Regions from separate parts of the Homo sapiens genome. Here region 2 is linked to region 1. A link means that fine-mapping ties the variant in region 1 to the expression of a gene that starts in the linked region. Tissue or cell type: whole blood. Region 1 holds a variant in brackets; the other region holds the start of a gene. All regions are shown on one strand. Distances are from middle to middle.

Region 1 (8,105 bases):
ATGGAGGGTCCTACCTTGCAACTCTTTTGGCTTCAATATCTGCTTGGCGGTTCCCTTCTACTTCTTTTCTTTTCTTTCTGGTGACCCTGGCAGTGTAAAACTGCCACCTCTTTAGGTTTCTGTAGAGCCAAAAATAATCTCCTAATGTCTTCCTGATGTTTGATAGGTATTCCCTCGGAAGTTAGGAATTCCCTTTCTCTCCATATTGTTGCATGGGCATGGAGAGTTAGGTAAGCATACTTAGAGTCTTTATATATATTTACCCTTTTTCCTTCTCCTAATTCTAGTGTATAACGGCCCCTGCTTTTCCTAGGATGTCTCTCCCTAACAAAGGAGTGGGGCTTTCAGGCATAATTAGAAAGACATGTGAAAAGAGTAAAGTTCGCCAGTCACAACTTAGTGGCTGGGAGAAGTATATAGTGACTGCCTGTCCTAGGATCCCCTCAGATAGTGACAGATCTGGAGGACAGTTGTCCAGGACAGGAGAGTAAGACTGAGACAGCTGCGCCAGTGTCCAGGAGACAGTTAACCTCCTGGCCCTCAATGATCAAGCATACCCGGGGCTCTGTGAGGGTGATGGCGTGGGCTGGTGCTTGCCCCGGACACCCTCAGTCCTGCTGCTGTATCATCTGGTTAGTGGCTTCTGACTCAGAGGACCTTCGTCCCCTGGGGCAGTGGGCCTTCCAATGATTCCCTTGACATAAGGGGCATGGACGAGGGGGAGGCTTATTTCTATTCGGACAATCTTTTTTAAAGTGTCCTTGTAAACCATACTGGAAGCAATCCCTGTTAGGCATTCGATTTGCCCAGCCTTTCCCTGTTCCAGAGCCTTCAAAGTCCATTTGCCTGAAGACCATGACTAAAGTGGTGGCCTTTTTCTTATCCCGTTTATCCCGTTCTGCCTGCTCCTCCTGATCTTTATTATAAAAAACTGAGGTTGCCAAGTTCAGTAGGGTTTCTAAGTTTTGCTCCGGGCCTAAGGCGGACTTTTGAAGTTTTGTTCTAATGTCTGCAGCTGACTGAGTGATAAACTTATCCTTTAAGATTAGTTGGCCCTCAATAGAGTCATGCGACAGAGAGGTATGCTTTCTCAAAGCCTCCCTTAGTGTCTCCAGAAAGGCGGTAGGATTTTTCTTCCTTTTCCTGTGTTATAGTGGACATCATTGAATAATTCATAGTCTTCCTCCTAGTTTTCCTTAGCCTTCTTGCACGCAAGTTAGCAAATGTCTGCGGCACCAATCTCCATGTTCTGATTTTGCGTCCCAGTGAGGGTCTACACTGGGAACTGCCTCCTGGCCTGTGGAGAATTGTTCTCTTTCTTCTGTTGTCATCCTATCATTGACCTGACTGAGATACCAGAGATTGCCAAACTCTCTGGCTGCAGTTATGGTGGCACTTCTCTCTTTTGTGGTTAGCGTCTGATCTAGCAGCAACATTATATCTGTCTATGTCCGATAAAAGCATTGTTCTAACCCTTGTAAAACATCAATATAGCCATCAGGGTTATCTGATAATTTACCTAGGTCTATTTTAATTTGCTTCAAGTCTGACAGGGAAAAAGGTACATACACTCTGGGCCGAATTCTCCAGAATATATCTTAGGGGCGTTTTTGCCTTGTGGGGAACATGTCCCATCTGAAAAAAGAACATAGGGATGCCAGCACCTCTAGTCATTTTCCAATGAGCATTATCCCAGAGGACTAGAGCGTCCTCTGTGGTCCTAGTGCTTATTCCTTTCCAGGGTGTACAACTACCCATGGACCTCTGCTTATCGGATTAGTTACACTCACCAATGTAGCAGTCCTGCACCCCTTTTCCCACCTTTCTTGACCACAAAGAAAGGGGTCCGGGCTGCTGGATTCTAGTGGTCCTTTACCAGCATGCCCAATATTGCCTTTGCGCTCAAGGGTGAGTTCTAGAGCTGGGCTGGGTTCCTGAGTATTTTATAACAACCCAGCTGCCCCATCAAGATGCGTTCCCATAAACAACAGTTCTTATGCAAATTCTTTTCAGAGAGGGTGTAGGTAACCTTTTGAGTTAGGATTGAGGTAGAGTTTTTGCCCACTAGGGCCTTTGTCCTTTTCCCTTGTAGGAATACGCCCTAATTATCAATCTTAAACTTTTTGTTGCCCCGGATTAAGTCCTTGCCGGTATGAAATTTGAGAGATGGATCCTGTTTATCCCATGTGCCTTTTTCCGTGGGTTACTGGGTTAAGGATTTTTGATAGGAAGGCTATGTGTTGTCAGTGGTCTCAGTGTTTTCAGGCTACGCCCTTGTTTACACTGACAACAAGGTAGTATTGGAGTGTTATAGGGTCACAGAGAAGACCTTCAGTTATCAATTATAGGTTTTAAATTTACCCTGGCTTTTAAAGGAATAGGGTGCACTGTTTTTTCTTTACTACTTCTATCTCTCTTTTTCTCTCTCTCCCTCTCTTTTCTCTCTCTCTCTGTCTCTTCTCTCCTTGAGTTACTTAATTCGCTTTCATCCTGATCTATTATGTTGTCATAGACCCAGTTCCAGTTGTTAAAGTACTGGGTCATGAGTTTCAAGGCCCTGGCCAAGGAGCCAAGGCTTGGAGATTGTATTGCAGAGGGATAAGCTGGGTAAAAATCAGGGGAGGAGAGCATCTTACATGATGAGAGAGCAATCCTCCTAGCCATTTACAAACTTGGGGCCCTGGCAAGGGTGGTGGGGAATGGGTCCCACATAACTGCCCATGTTGAGAGCTGTATATCTAAACTGGGACACCAGGGACAAGATTCCCTGGGTTCATAGCCTAGGTACCTAAGGACACAGCATAGAACTTCCTTAGATCCCTTTGGAGATACAACTTGCTCTAATACTTGGGAGAGGAAATGAAGTCTGAACCATTAGTACCTAGGAGGCAGGGATCGGAGGAAGTAGATTCAGAAGTAAGGAGAATTTTGGGCTACACTTTCAAGAAAGTCATGGTCGGGACCCAGGAGGTATGGGTCAGAAGGAAAGGTAGGGGTGCATGCACGGGCGACTGTTGAGTAGAGACTTCGGCTGCGCCATGATCTCAACCAGCTAACGCCGGGAGTTCGGGACGACAGCTTTCTGCCTCTAGTCGGCCCTCGGCCTCCCCAGGAAAATTGAAAGCAGAAGCTGGTTCCAGGCAGACCAACGCTCCCAACCCAGAAGGGTTGGACGTTGTTAGAAAGCCCTTTCCCAGATAGCCTCACACCTGAGTCTTAAGTCTGGCAGCCACACTAATTATTTTTAACTGGCTGACAGGTGCCCGGTATTTTCCTCCAATTCTAAGGAAGGATAGGACAGAATAGCAAGTGAAAGTGGTCCAATATTACTCACCGCTTTTGAGGTCCCTTTGTGGTCACCAAAATGTTACTGGGGGGTCCTTGTTCTTAGAGCTCCTAAGATGGTGGTAGGCTGCTTCCAAGATGGTGGCAAGCCTCTTGTTCTCTGACCTCGGGTTCTTGACCTCACGGATTCCAAGGAATGGAATCTTGGGTCATGCGGTGAGTGTTACAGCTCTGTTCAGCTCGATTAGGATGAACCCCAGGCACTTAGCCTGTGCAGGAACAATGGTGAGCCTCTAGCCCGACTGG[G/C]AGTGGCAATGGGCGCCGCCTCGCTGGATCAGAAGTGCAGTGGACACCCTGCCAGATCGGAGGGGTAGAAGTCAACAGCGGGTCTGCGACGACGGTGATCAGCAGTGGTGGACGGTGAGTGAAAGCTCAGTTTGAACTGGAACAAACACGGACCAGAGAGTGTGCAGTTGCAAGATTTAATAGAGTGAAAACAGAGCTCCCATACAATGGGAGGGGACCCAAAGGGGGTTCCCTGCCTTTTTTTTCTTTTAGGTCCTTGAAGGATTACATGATGCCTGCCCACATTGGTGAGGGCAAGTCTTGTTTATTCAGTCTGCTGATTCAAATGGTAATGTCTTCCTGAAACATCTTCATGGATATACCCAGAAATGTTTTAGCAGCTATCTGGGCATCCCTTAACCCAGTCAAGTTGACATGTAAAATTAACCATCACCATGCCAAGTTAAAATATTTATAGATACTGCTAAATTGTATGCTATGTTAATCAGGATTCTTTCAGTACTGAGTGAAAGAAACCTAGTTCAAACTAGCTTAAGCAAAGAAAGGGAATATAGTAGCTCAAGTAAATGTAAATCTGAGTGATGGGTCTCTTCAGAGACTGCTGGATTCTACTATTAGAATGATGTCGTTAGACAGGCAGGATTTCCCTTTGGAAGTTCTAGACTTACCTTATTTTTATTTTTTTAATTAAAAAAATTTTTTTAAAGAGATGGGGTCTTACTCTGTTGCTCAAGCTGGAGTACAGTGGTGTGATCATGGCTCATTGCAGCCTCCAACTCTTGGGCTCAAGTGATCCTCCCATCTCAGTCTCTGGAATAACTGGGACCGCAGACATATGCCATCACATCAGGCTAATTTTTTTATTTTCTATATTTTGTAGAGGTGGGGGGGGGGTCTTACTATTTTGTCCAGGTTGGTCTCAAAACTCCTGGCCTCAAGTGATACTCCTTCCTTGGCCTCCCAAAGTGCTGGGATTACAGGCATGAGCCACTGCATTAGGCCTTGCCTTATCTTTAAAGAGCTCTTTATGTATTCTGGATATTAATCCTTCGGTGTTATATGTGTTTCGGGTATTTTCTCGTCACTTTTCTTAACAGTGTCTACTTTCTTTGTAATGCCTTTCAACCTCTTCCTCTTCACTGACTTCTTCCATGCATCTTGTGTGCATTATGAAGTCTCTGCTGAGGGTTGTCTGAGAAGTTTGCACATAATACAATTCCTTGCATTGTGGAAATTATTTTATATATAACCTTTTCTTATAATACCTAAATAAAACATAGTAAGATGATATAAATTGTGTAAATGGTGTGGCGATATAATCTTGACATTTATTACACTTGTGATTGGCACATAGTAAATTTGTCATCAAATTCTGGCTCAGCTGTTGAGAAATATTCTGGTCTTAATACTTAACCTATCTCCTCTACTGAAAACCTTGTGGTTTGACTTTCCCTGTTAGAGTTTGCAGAAAACAAAAAGAACGGTCTATCACCCATTACTACCACTTTTATAAGAAGTAATAGACAAGTTTATTATTCATAAGTAAAAAGACACTTTGTGTCAGTAAACATAGGGTGTGGTTCCATTGGCAGTGTTTGGGCCAACTCTTGTCATTGCTACACAGGCGTCAGTGGCTGGCATTGGTTCAGCTGAGGTGGCTCTAATTCTCCAAGTATTCCCAGGAAATAACTCACAAGTTGTGAAAGACCTGAAGTGCTCATTGTGTTTGTCCATTAAGAATGTCTTTAATACCCACACCATTTAAAGTTTCAATAAGTTGAGAAGGAGAAGCCACTTTGCCTTCCTTTGAGGGTAAGGAGAGATTAAAGCATTAAAAACAGTGAATAGGATGAGCCATTTCTTTTTCAAGAAGCACCCCTGTAGAGAAGGGAAGAGAGTGAGAAGGTGGTGGTTGATGGTCCAGTACAAGGTAGATAAGATCCCTTTGCTAAAACTCATGTATCAGTTTAAGGAAAGCAGTTTATCTTTGGAACTTTCAAAACTAATTTATAGTGGGTGGTGAAAATTTTCTTAAAATGATACTTTGGAGACTTTACCAAATGTGTAACAACTTTGACAGTACTTAAATTGCATATCTATCTGCATTTGTATTTTACAAAAATTCAGACTATATACCTAATTCTATTGAACCCTATTGAGAGTTGGTCCAGCTAATTTATCCTCGTTTCACTGTTATGGAACCTGAGCCTCAGAGAGGTTTAAGTAATTGGCCCGAAGTATAACCCATATTATTTCTAGCAGAGTCAAAGTTGCAGCCTCAATCCAACTTCAAATGTTATCTTCCTGGTCCAGTGATTTTAAAGTTAGCTTAATATATTTTTTTCTATAGGTAAAATATTTCAAGATCTCAAGTTAGTAGTAAATTGACTTCAGTATTTCTCACCTGTGTGAGAAGTGCCTTTTATTTTCTTTACTTCATATATAATCACACAGGAGATTTTATTTCCTTTTCCCAAGATGAGTGTGTATGCAAGTCACTAAGGGTGGCTTGCACTCCAGAAGTGGGAATTAAACTCTACTTCCTTGATGGAGTAGTCTTTACATAAATTATTTGGAATTCTTCTACATGGGAGATTTATCTCTTCTCTCCCGTTAATTTATATATTTAGTCATTTATATCTGCATGAACTCATTGTTACTTATTTTATACCTGTACTTTAGGTTACAATCCAATACAATGTAATTTATTTTGTTGCTCATATTGTTTTGGTCATAGGATGCCCTTTCAGAGTGGCTCCTATTGTCTCTTTTGCATGCCCCCATTGTTTGTTTTTTGAGCACGTTTTACTTTTTGGACCTACAGTGTGCTCCGACTCTTTGTATGTTTCCCACCTCAGCCTTAGAATCAGCCATTTTCATAAGAGTGCTGGTTTCTTTTACGGGAGAATGATAGTGAAAACCAAGATGTAAGGCCAGGCATGGTGGCTCACGCCTGTAATCTCAGCACTTTGGGAGGCCAAGTCGGGCAGATCACCTGAGGCCAGGAGTTTGAGACCAGCCTGGCCAACATGGCAAAAACATGTCTCTACTAAAAAAAAAATACAAAAAATTACCCAGGTGTGGTGGTGCGCCTATAATCCCAGCTACTCGGGAGGCTGAAGCAGGAGAATCGCTTGAACCTGGGAGGTGGAGGTTGCAGTGAGCTGAGATCACGCCACTGCACTCCATCCTGGGCAACACTGTCTCAAAAAAAAAAAACAGAAAGAAAGAGAGAAAACCAAGATCTGAGGACTGGGTGTGCTTGTTGCTACTGGACTGTCATTGATTTTAAGCCCTTTCAGCAGACAGATCTAGAACATATATTTATATATTATAACCCATGTATATATACATCTATAGTTGTTTCCGTGTCTAGCCATCTGTATCTATATTAAGCTAAACATGAATTCATACTGATGTCTGGACTCTACTCCAGAACACATGGTTCATTCTAGCCTTCCCTCTTTCCTTATATGTAACCTTCCTCTCCAACAGTAAGAAACCTGGCCCCCAGATCTGCCATCTGTTTATTTATTTGTTTGTTCTTAGTATTCATGTAGAGTGGTTTCAGAATTGTTAATCTCTACTCCTAGAAACAACTTTACCAACTAGACTATAGTGTTTATGTGCAGTTCTTTTTGTCTTTAGTCTTACAGTTTTCAGTCATAGCATCATTTATCAAAGTTATGTAGACCAGTGTCTTTTTTCTCTATCTCTCAGTGTGGTTATGACATATATTTGTAATTCAATTAGATTCTTTTGTCACAGTCTGCATGCTATCCTAGGATCACCCTTCCTTTTACCTCCTGGTTGATTTTTTTTTTTTAAATTGCGTACATTAAGGTTCACTCTTTCTGCTGTAAGGCATAATATTTAAATGGTCAGGATTAAACTTTATGTCTTTTTTTTCTTTTTAAGTGGAGGAGAACATCTTTTCTACTTTACAAGAGAAAGTTCCTTGGCTTCTGTAATGTAACATCGGTCTAGGTCTCTGACCTTTTAGTGACCATCTTTCTTAGTCTCTTACTGCTTCTGTTGATTCCTTTCCCTGATGGGTACCTTCCTTTCTGCATTTGTACCAGGAGCACATTACTTCACTTTTTCTAACTTTAAGACATGGTTTAATATATAGTAAGTCTAGGCACGCTTCAATGCTTGTGTTGTTCATTTTTCTAAATTATTTGTTACTCTTACCTGCCCTACTGATAGAGAGAGGAGACAGCCAAATGCTGCCCAGGTCATTGTGCACAGGGGGCTTGCCTAAACATGCCCATGGGGGCGAAAAATTCCGTGCCTTAACACGTGCACAGAAAGGGAAATAAATCAATGTGGAGTGGCTCAGAATAAGGGGCTGCCTGTGCACTGGAAGAATGGGGTGAAGCCACTGGGAATTCTCACCTTATGCAGTGGGGAGGAGCCTGGCCTCTTCAGCTCATGTGTGGTGGTCTGGTATTCAATCTGTGGGGTGGGAACCTGTTGGCAGGACCCCCTTTTTTAGCTGGGAGCTTTCCTTT
Region 2 (8,092 bases), 30 kb before region 1:
AAAAATACAAAAAAAAATTAGCCAGGTGTGGTAGCGCACGCTTACAATCCCAGCTACTGGGGAGGCTGGGCAACAAGAATCGCTTGAACCCGGGAGGCAGAAGTTGCAGTAAGCTGAGATGGCGCCATTGTACTCTAGCCTGGGTGACAGAGCGAGACTCTGTCACAAACACAAATGTCCAACCAACTGGCCCATTAAAAAAAATGGCAGCGCCAGGTGAGGAGAGTAGTGGTTTCTTTTCTTTTCTTTTTTTTTTTTTTTTGAGACAGACTCCTCTGTCGCCCAGGATGGAGTGCAGTGGCATGATCTCGGATCACTGCAACTTCTGCCTCCAAGGTTCAAGCGATTCTCCTGCCTCAGCCTCCCAAGTAGCTGGAACTACAGACATGTGCCACCATGCCCGGCTAATTTTTTTATTTTTAGTAGAGACAAGGTTTCGCCATGTTGCCTAGGCTAGTCTCAAACTCCTGGGCTCAAGTAATCCACCCAGCTCGGCCTCCCAAAATGTTGGGATTATAGGCGTCAGCCACTGTGCCCAGCCAGTAATTTCAGTTAAATGCAAAGGGAAGCCTTAAGGTTATAGAAGTATTAAAAAAAATCAAAAGACCAATGATAATGACTATTGTGGCTTATTTTTACATAAAGGACATAGGCCTTGTGACAATTCACAGAACACTCTAGATTTTTCTCAAAGTAGCACAGACTTAAAGAAAAAAAAGCCAGATGCAATGGTGACCACCTGTAGTCCTCGCTGTTCAGGAGGCTGAGGCAGAAGGATGGCTTGAGCCCAGGAGTTTGAGGCTGTAGTGAGCATAATCATGCCTATAAATACCTACTGCACTCCAGCTTCTAAAAAAAGAATTTTTTTTTTTTTTTTTTTTTTTGAGACAGAGTCTCACTCTGTCACCCAGGCTGGAGTGCAGTGGTGCAATCTTGGCTCAGTGCAACCTCCACCTCCCGGGTTTAAGCGATTCTCCTGCCTCGGCCTCCCAAGTAGCTGGGAGCACTGGTGTGCACCACCACGCCCAGCTAATTTTTGTGTTTTTAGTAGAGATGGGGTTTCACCACGTTGGTCAGGCTTGTCTTGAATTCCTGACCTCATAATCCGCCTGCCTCTGCCTCCCAAAGTGCTGGGATTACAGATGTGAGCCGCCGCACATGGCCAAAGCATTTTTTTTTTGAAATAAAATTGTTAGATACGTGAAAAGTTGGTGTAGCAAATGCTAAGACTGAAAGAAAATGGAATGACAATTTGGTAGTGACCTCTAAAAATGCTAGTTTTAGTCGCTCGCTTATAGTAAGTTTTCAGGGCTGCATATCAGCAAGTTTTTTTAAATTAAAAAAAACACAGGTGCCAAGAGTAAAAAATTTTAATGACATAATTCTTCAAACATCTGCCATATTCACTCCAAGTGTGCTCTTTGGATACAACAACAGGTATTAAAGTATTCTCTTCCAAGCCTGCTAAAGTTATATCTGATTCATAACAAAATTTTACATAGGTATTTCAATGTATCAATATTTTGTGGCATTAATACAAAGAGAAATTTGACGTCCCAGAAAAATATTTACCTAGATAAATTCAGAACATTTGGTTCACACATGTAATCCCAGTATTCTGGGAGGCTCAGGCACGAGGATTGCTTGAGCCCAGGAGTTCGAGACCAGCCTAGGCAACATAGTGAGACCCTGCCTCTAGAAAAAAAAAAAAAAATTAGCCAGGAGTGGTGGGATTTCCCTATAGTCCCAGCTACTGGGAAGCTGAGGAGATCTCTTGAGCCCAGGAGGTCGAGGCTGCAGCCAGTGGTGACCGTACCACTGCACTTCAGAATGGGCAACAGACTGAGACCCTGTCTCAAAAAACAAACAAAAACAGAAAAACCCAAACCAAACCAAACCAAACCAAAAAACCCCTAACACTTGCAAATAGAAAGCTATGTGGTAATAACATCCATTAACTTGACACATCTTGTTTTGACATCATAGTGTCACTTACTGTTTCAATGAAATGGTAATGAAAGAATATAATAAAGTATTGCAAGTTGAATGCTTGAAGGTAATTGGAATAAAAAGTTTAAAAAAATTTTGCTTTTTCCGGGACTTCAATTTGAAGTAAATGAGTTAATTACTACATGGTAAGTGTCATAAGAGTACAATATTTATTAGCCTGCAGTAGGTACACGTGGACAGGAAGACTTTTCAGCGGTCCACTCCCCCAAGAGGGAATTTTCATTTCCGCGAGGTTACAAATGTTCTTCACTACAGGAAAACTCAACATAGAAGCTCATGTTCTGGGGACTCAAATAACAGTCGTAATACATGAAAACTGTAAAGGATATTCTGCATAAAGGGTCGTTAACATCTCACAGGCCAAATAGCCCTCTCAGAAACAACTAGGAAAGGAAAAAGTTCCCTTGGAGCTGTGCGTTTGCGTATGTCCGTGTGTGTATACAACTGAGGGAGAACGAATACGAGAGAGGGAACTCGAGTCTGAAGTACTGTGGTGTGGGCAGGGTGACATGTAATACTGAAGGAAAGAAGTCTGCTGGTGAAGTAAGAGCCACAGTTAATTTTCCGAAAGGAAGATGAGTAAGTGCACCTGACGTTATTCTACGAAAGCTGCTTCTGCAGGGTGGGAATGTTGGGAAGCAAGGTCTAGTGCGACAGAATTGAAAAGGTGGAGAGCAGGTGATTGCTGGATCCCTAATGCTCAGCAAGGGGGACGCATCCACATAACGTGAGAACGAACGAATGAATGAACGCTGCATAAAAGCAGCTTTGGCTTGGGGAAGGTAAGAGTCTGCAGAGAAGGTCTTGGGGAGAAAAAGCAAAGAAAACCGAGGGAAGAGGCCGAACCCTTAGTGTCAGGAGGAGGGGTGGCTGCGGGGTTAGTGAGGGCACTGACCAGAGAGAACTCGGTGCCGGGCCAGTTGACTCGGAAAGGGATGTCATCGCTGAGTTGAGGAAGGGCTCGGCCGCCGCCGGACGCCTCCAGGAGGCCGCAGAGGACCAGTAACACCGGCCCGCCCGGGACCAGACTCCGTACGCCGCCGCCTCCTTCCTCCATCCTCCGCCGCCGCTTTCTCCAGCCACCGCCACAACCTCCTCTGCTCCAGGAGGAGAGGAGGAGGAGGAGGAGGTGGAGGAGGAGGCGGCGGGACTATAAAGCGCCCGGGTATCACCGGCCCAACCGCCGCCACGTCTCCTTCCGGAGAGCCCGGCAACGCCGCCTCCGCCCCCTTGAGCCTCCTGTCACCGTTTCCGGGGCAGACGACATATCAACATCCGGGGGTCGCGGAGCCGTCCGCCTACGGGGGCCGGGACGTCGCCTGCGCGTCTCTCGTTTTCGGACGGCTGCAGCATCGCGGTGGGGATCGAAAGCGGGGGCTTCTGGGACGCAGCTCTGGAGACGCGGCCTCGGACCAGCCATTTCGGTGTAGAAGTGGCAGCACGGCAGGTCGGTGAGTCTCGGAGGCGGCAGCCGCTTCCTGAAGCCATTCCCGCTGCTCTCCAGTGGGCAGGCAGAGGTTTGACCCACACGGAGTGATAGCGGGAAGAAGACAGTGTGAACCGTGCGGGTGCGGGTCCTTAGATGAGAAAATTCGAAGTAGCGATGAGATGTGAGAAATGGCGGTGTTCCTGACTGACCTGCCTTCTTGCAGCTTTTCTTCTTTTTCTCCGCATTTGGCATTTGTACACTTCATTTTTCCCGCTTGAGGCTTATCTCCATCTCTTCTGCTGTGGACCGTGGCCATCTCGTTACTTAACAGCTTCTGACTAACGCAGGGCAGTTTGTTCAGCGACTGCAACTCTGTGTTAGGGGAAACCTGGGGTGAGGTAGCCCGCCATCTCCCCGTAGGTGAATACCGCAAGCCTCCGAATTTGGCGTGGTGGGCGACTCTCGTGGAATGGGCAGCTAGACATCACAACCCTACATTTTTACCCTCCATCTCTAGATTGAAGTGTTGGGGTGTTGTTTTATCAAGGAAGCTGGTAAGGTTCCTTATGTGAGGTTTAGCGCCAGATGAATGTGTGTGTTTATGAACTAAGTCACGTCTGACTGCATCCCCAAATTAGACAAAAAGTTTTGTTTTTCCCTCCCCCTCTTTAGAAAAAATGCCATTGTCTGTTTTGATCTCCAATATAATGGACATAGAGTGTTGGCTTTAGAGAAATTACCATTCCCTAAAGCTCGACAGTCTTGCTAGATCTGTTAAAGACTGGTCGCCCCCACTTCCTCAGATTTGAACCAAATCAAAAAGCAGGAAGGACAGTCCCATATTCTATCTTAAAAATTTTTTTTTAACATCAGGAATCCATAGTATCAAAGAAGATAACTTTCTTCAGAATTGTTATTCGCTAATTATATTCAGCACTTCTTATTAATGCTTAATGTGATCCAGACTCCTGGGATTTTTGTTGTTGTTGTTTGTTTTGAGACAAAGTCTCGCTCTGTCACCCAGGCTGGAGTGCAGAGGCATAATCTTGGCTCACTGCAACCTCCGCCTCTGGAGTTCAAGGGATTCTCCTTTTTCTCAGCCTTCCGAGTAGTTGGGATTACAGGCGCGCGCCGCTACACCCTAATTTTTGTATTTTTAGTAGAGGCAGGGTTTCACCACGTTGGCCAGGCTGGTCTCGAACTCCTGACCTCGGGTGATCCGCCCTCCTCGGCCTTCCAAAGTGCTGGGATTACAGGCCTGAGCCACTGTGCCTGGCCCCCCTGGGCTTGGTAAAATGCCAAATAAATGGGTTTCTGTCTTTGGTCACACAGTCTAGGCAGGGAGATTGTACAAACAAATAATTGCAAACTATTATAGTAGTAATAGTCAATTTTTTTTTTTTTTAGCATTTATTCTGTGCTAAGCACTAGTCTTAAGTCATGAAGGAAAAGAGATGTATTTGACGGAATAAAAATGAAAACTGTCTGTGAGGTCCTGTTTTAGCATTTAGGGCTATAGTGATTGAATCTGTGTTCAATAGAGCTGATGTTCAAGTAAGAGGGGAACTTAAATAAGTAAAATAATTTCTAGTATTGGTAAGTGCTGCAAAGAAACTAAGGTTATGTGAAAGACAATACCTGTAGGATGTGTTGCTTTTAGTACGTAAGTCAGAGGAGACTTCTGTGAGGAAGTGACATTTGAATTGTGACTTGAATGATGAAAAGAAGGGAGCCAGACAAATTTCTAGGCAGAGGCCCTGAGGCAGGAATGAGCTTGATGTGTTGGAGTGATAGAAAGAAGGCCAGTGTGGCTGGAGTGTAAGAGGAAAGTGGTAGAAGAAGTTTGAGAAGCAGAAAGAGGCCAGGGAGACAGCTCTGTAGGCAGGAGAGTGGACAGGACCCGATGTACATTTGTGAAGATCATTGTGGCTGCTGTGTGGAAAATTGATTGTAGGGGGTGTTGTGGGTTGAATTGTGTTCCCCAAAAAGACATGTTTAAGTCCTATCCCCTAGAACCTGTGAGTGTGAACTACTTGGGATAGGGTCTTTGCAAATATAATTCAAGTAAGGATGAGGTCATACTGAATCAAAGGGGGCCCTAATCTGGTGACTGGTATCTTTATAAGAAGAGGGAAATTTGGATACACATGGACACACAGGGAGAATGCCATGCCAGGAAGGAGGAGGCAGCAAGATTGCAGTATGTGTCTATAAGACAAGGAATGCTAAAGATTGCCAGTAATCACCACAAGCTAGGAAGAGGCAAGGAAGAATCCTTCTTTAGAGCTTTCAGAGAGAGAGAATAGCCCTGCTGACATCTTGATTTCTGACCTCTAGTTTCTAGAATTGTGAGACAATCAATTTATGCTGTCTAAGCTGCTCAGTTTGTGGTCATTTGTTACAGCAGCCTCAGGAAGGTAATAGAGGATGAAAACCAAAAAGTAGTTGAGACAAGTCTCAACCAGTTTAGAAGTTTATTTTGCCAAGGTTAAGGACGTGTCACAGACAGCCTCAGGAGGTCCTGACAGCATGTGCCCAAAGTGGTCGGGCTACACTTGGGTTTTACACATTTTAAGGAGCCACAGGACATCAATCAGTACAAGTCTTTTATGCTTTATTTATAGGTTGATTCTTAAACATTGAAAACTTATCAACTATTTACCATATTGTAATTATACAATCATCATTCGCTATAAAACTATTAAGTATGATTGCATCTGCAGAGAAAAAATGTAATTCTACCTCTGCCAATTAAGGTATCCTATTAGCTTCCTAATAATGGCACCATGTTTGCTAAAATAAACTCATTTTGCTCCTGAAGCTGTATTTCCAGCTCTCACACATGTAATTTAGACTAGTTGCTTTACAAGTCAGTTGCATACCTGTTTACTGAGATTTTTTTGTATCATGCCTGGGTTAGGTCTACTGCTTTATGTATTCCATGTCCTCATTTGTCATAGATTTTTTTCCCACCTTGTAGGGGTATAACTAATTTCAAGCAATTTTTTTCAGGAAGGATTAAACAGGTAATTTAATTTCCACAGACTTCATATGTCTGAAAATGCCTTTACCTTGCCTGCTCATTTAATGATAGCTTGGGAATAGACTTAGTCCACAATCATTTTGTTTTCTTCAAAACTCTGAAGACATTCTCTTGCTTTTTGTGTCTAGTGTATCTGATGACAAGTCTAATGCCAGTCTCTTTCTTTTGCAGGTATCATACTTTTTTCTCTGGAAGATTTTATTAGACTGTTTTCTTTATCATTGGTTCTGTGATATTTTATCAGTGTTTCTAGGTGGTGAATCTTTTTTCATTCATCCTTCTTGGCACTCTATGAATCCTATTTTTCACTTCTGGGAAATTTTCTTCAATTATTTCTTTAATTATGTTCTTGACATTTTCTCTGTTCTATTCAGAATTTAGATAGGTTCTTCCAAATACATTTAGATAGATTCTTCCAAATACAGAGGAAAAATATAAAAAGAAAAAATACATAATACGAAGGATCAATCCAAGAGGTCCATTTCCTTGATTTTCAGTTCTTTTCACTTTCTTTTTTCAGTGGTTTTTTCCCCACAGTTTCTAGTCATCTAGTTATTTTTAATGGATGCATTGTTCTCATGACATGAATTTCTTTGAGGATAACACTTATAACTTTTAAATATTTATGTCCCATTCCCGGAAATAGCTCTGCTTCTTTCAGGTCAGTTGTTTATTTTCATCCTTTCTGTCTGTTGTGCTTTTACTTCAAAAAAAAAAATTCTTGGCGGGGCATAGTGGCTCACACCGGTAATTCCAGCACTTTGAGAGATCACCTGAGGTCTGGAAGGTCAAGACCAGCCTGGCCAACATGGTGAAACCCTGTCTCTCCGAAAATAAAAAAATTAGCCGGAAGTCTTGGCAGGCTTCTGTAATCCCAGCTACTCAAGAGGCTGGGGCAGGAGAATCACTTAAACCTGGGAGGCGGAGGTTGCAGTGAGCCGAGATTGCGCCATTGCACTCCAGCCTGGATGACAAAAGTGAAACTTCATCTAAAAAAAAAAAAATTATTGAGCTCTTTTGTAAGTGAGCAGGGTACTAGCTGTTGGGTCTAACTTTAGGGTCCTTGAGTGAAGTGCAAGAAACGAGTTGCCTCTTTCCTCCTCTCCTTCCACCCTGTACCCAAATAAGGAATGCTTTGTTATGGAACATGAAGATGCTCAAAGGCTTCCAGGGTAGACTGTTAAATTAAAAAGAGCAATAACAACAAAATAGATGTGGTTTTAGCCAGAAACAAATACTGTTGCTGCCAGGCGTTTTGTGTGTAAAGGGCTGTGGTAAAAAGTTTGGCTTGCTGTTTCATATAAATATTATAATAATTCTGATTTTAGTCCTACGTCCTTCCTCTGCTTGTTTCTAAGATTGGTACCTCTCCAGGCTCTGCTGGCAAGAATGTCTTCTACATTGCTATAGCCTTCTCATGTATGCATGTGTGTGTGTTCTGGACTGCAGTTTTCTCTGCACTGGCTTAATCCTCAGCATAATCCTACCTGCTTTCTCTTCCAGAATGAATGAGTGCATTTCAGTGCGATTTTGTTAGGAAGCGGAGGAAAATGTATGTGCTTAGTTTGCCTTGCATAGAGTGAGTAATCCATTGTTTTTTTGTTTGTTTG

What was found. PIP is the estimated chance that this variant, and not a neighbour inherited with it, causes the effect.
Region 2: ASB3 starts here. The variant in region 1 is fine-mapped to the expression of ASB3 in whole blood (TOPMed, PIP above 0.99).

What each region holds. Positions count from the first base shown.
Region 1 is chr2:53,752,358-53,760,462 of GRCh38, reverse strand. The region is part of intron 2 of ASB3 (ankyrin repeat and SOCS box containing 3); the gene reads left to right. All of the region lies in intron 2 of GPR75-ASB3 (GPR75-ASB3 readthrough), which reads left to right. Among named protein-coding and RNA genes, the nearest start is that of CHAC2, 11 kb to the left of the region's middle. The variant G/C (reference allele first, on the strand shown) is at 3,592.
Region 2 is chr2:53,782,186-53,790,277 of GRCh38, reverse strand. ASB3 (ankyrin repeat and SOCS box containing 3) reads left to right here and starts at 3,325. Exons shown (of 10, transcript NM_016115.5): 1 at 3,325-3,457. The region is part of intron 1 of GPR75-ASB3 (GPR75-ASB3 readthrough); the gene reads left to right. It overlaps ERLEC1 (endoplasmic reticulum lectin 1), which reads right to left and starts at 3,234. Exons shown (of 14, transcript NM_015701.5): 1 at 2,906-3,234. The coding sequence starts at 3,067. RefSeq lists enhancers at 3,242-3,661, 3,177-3,835.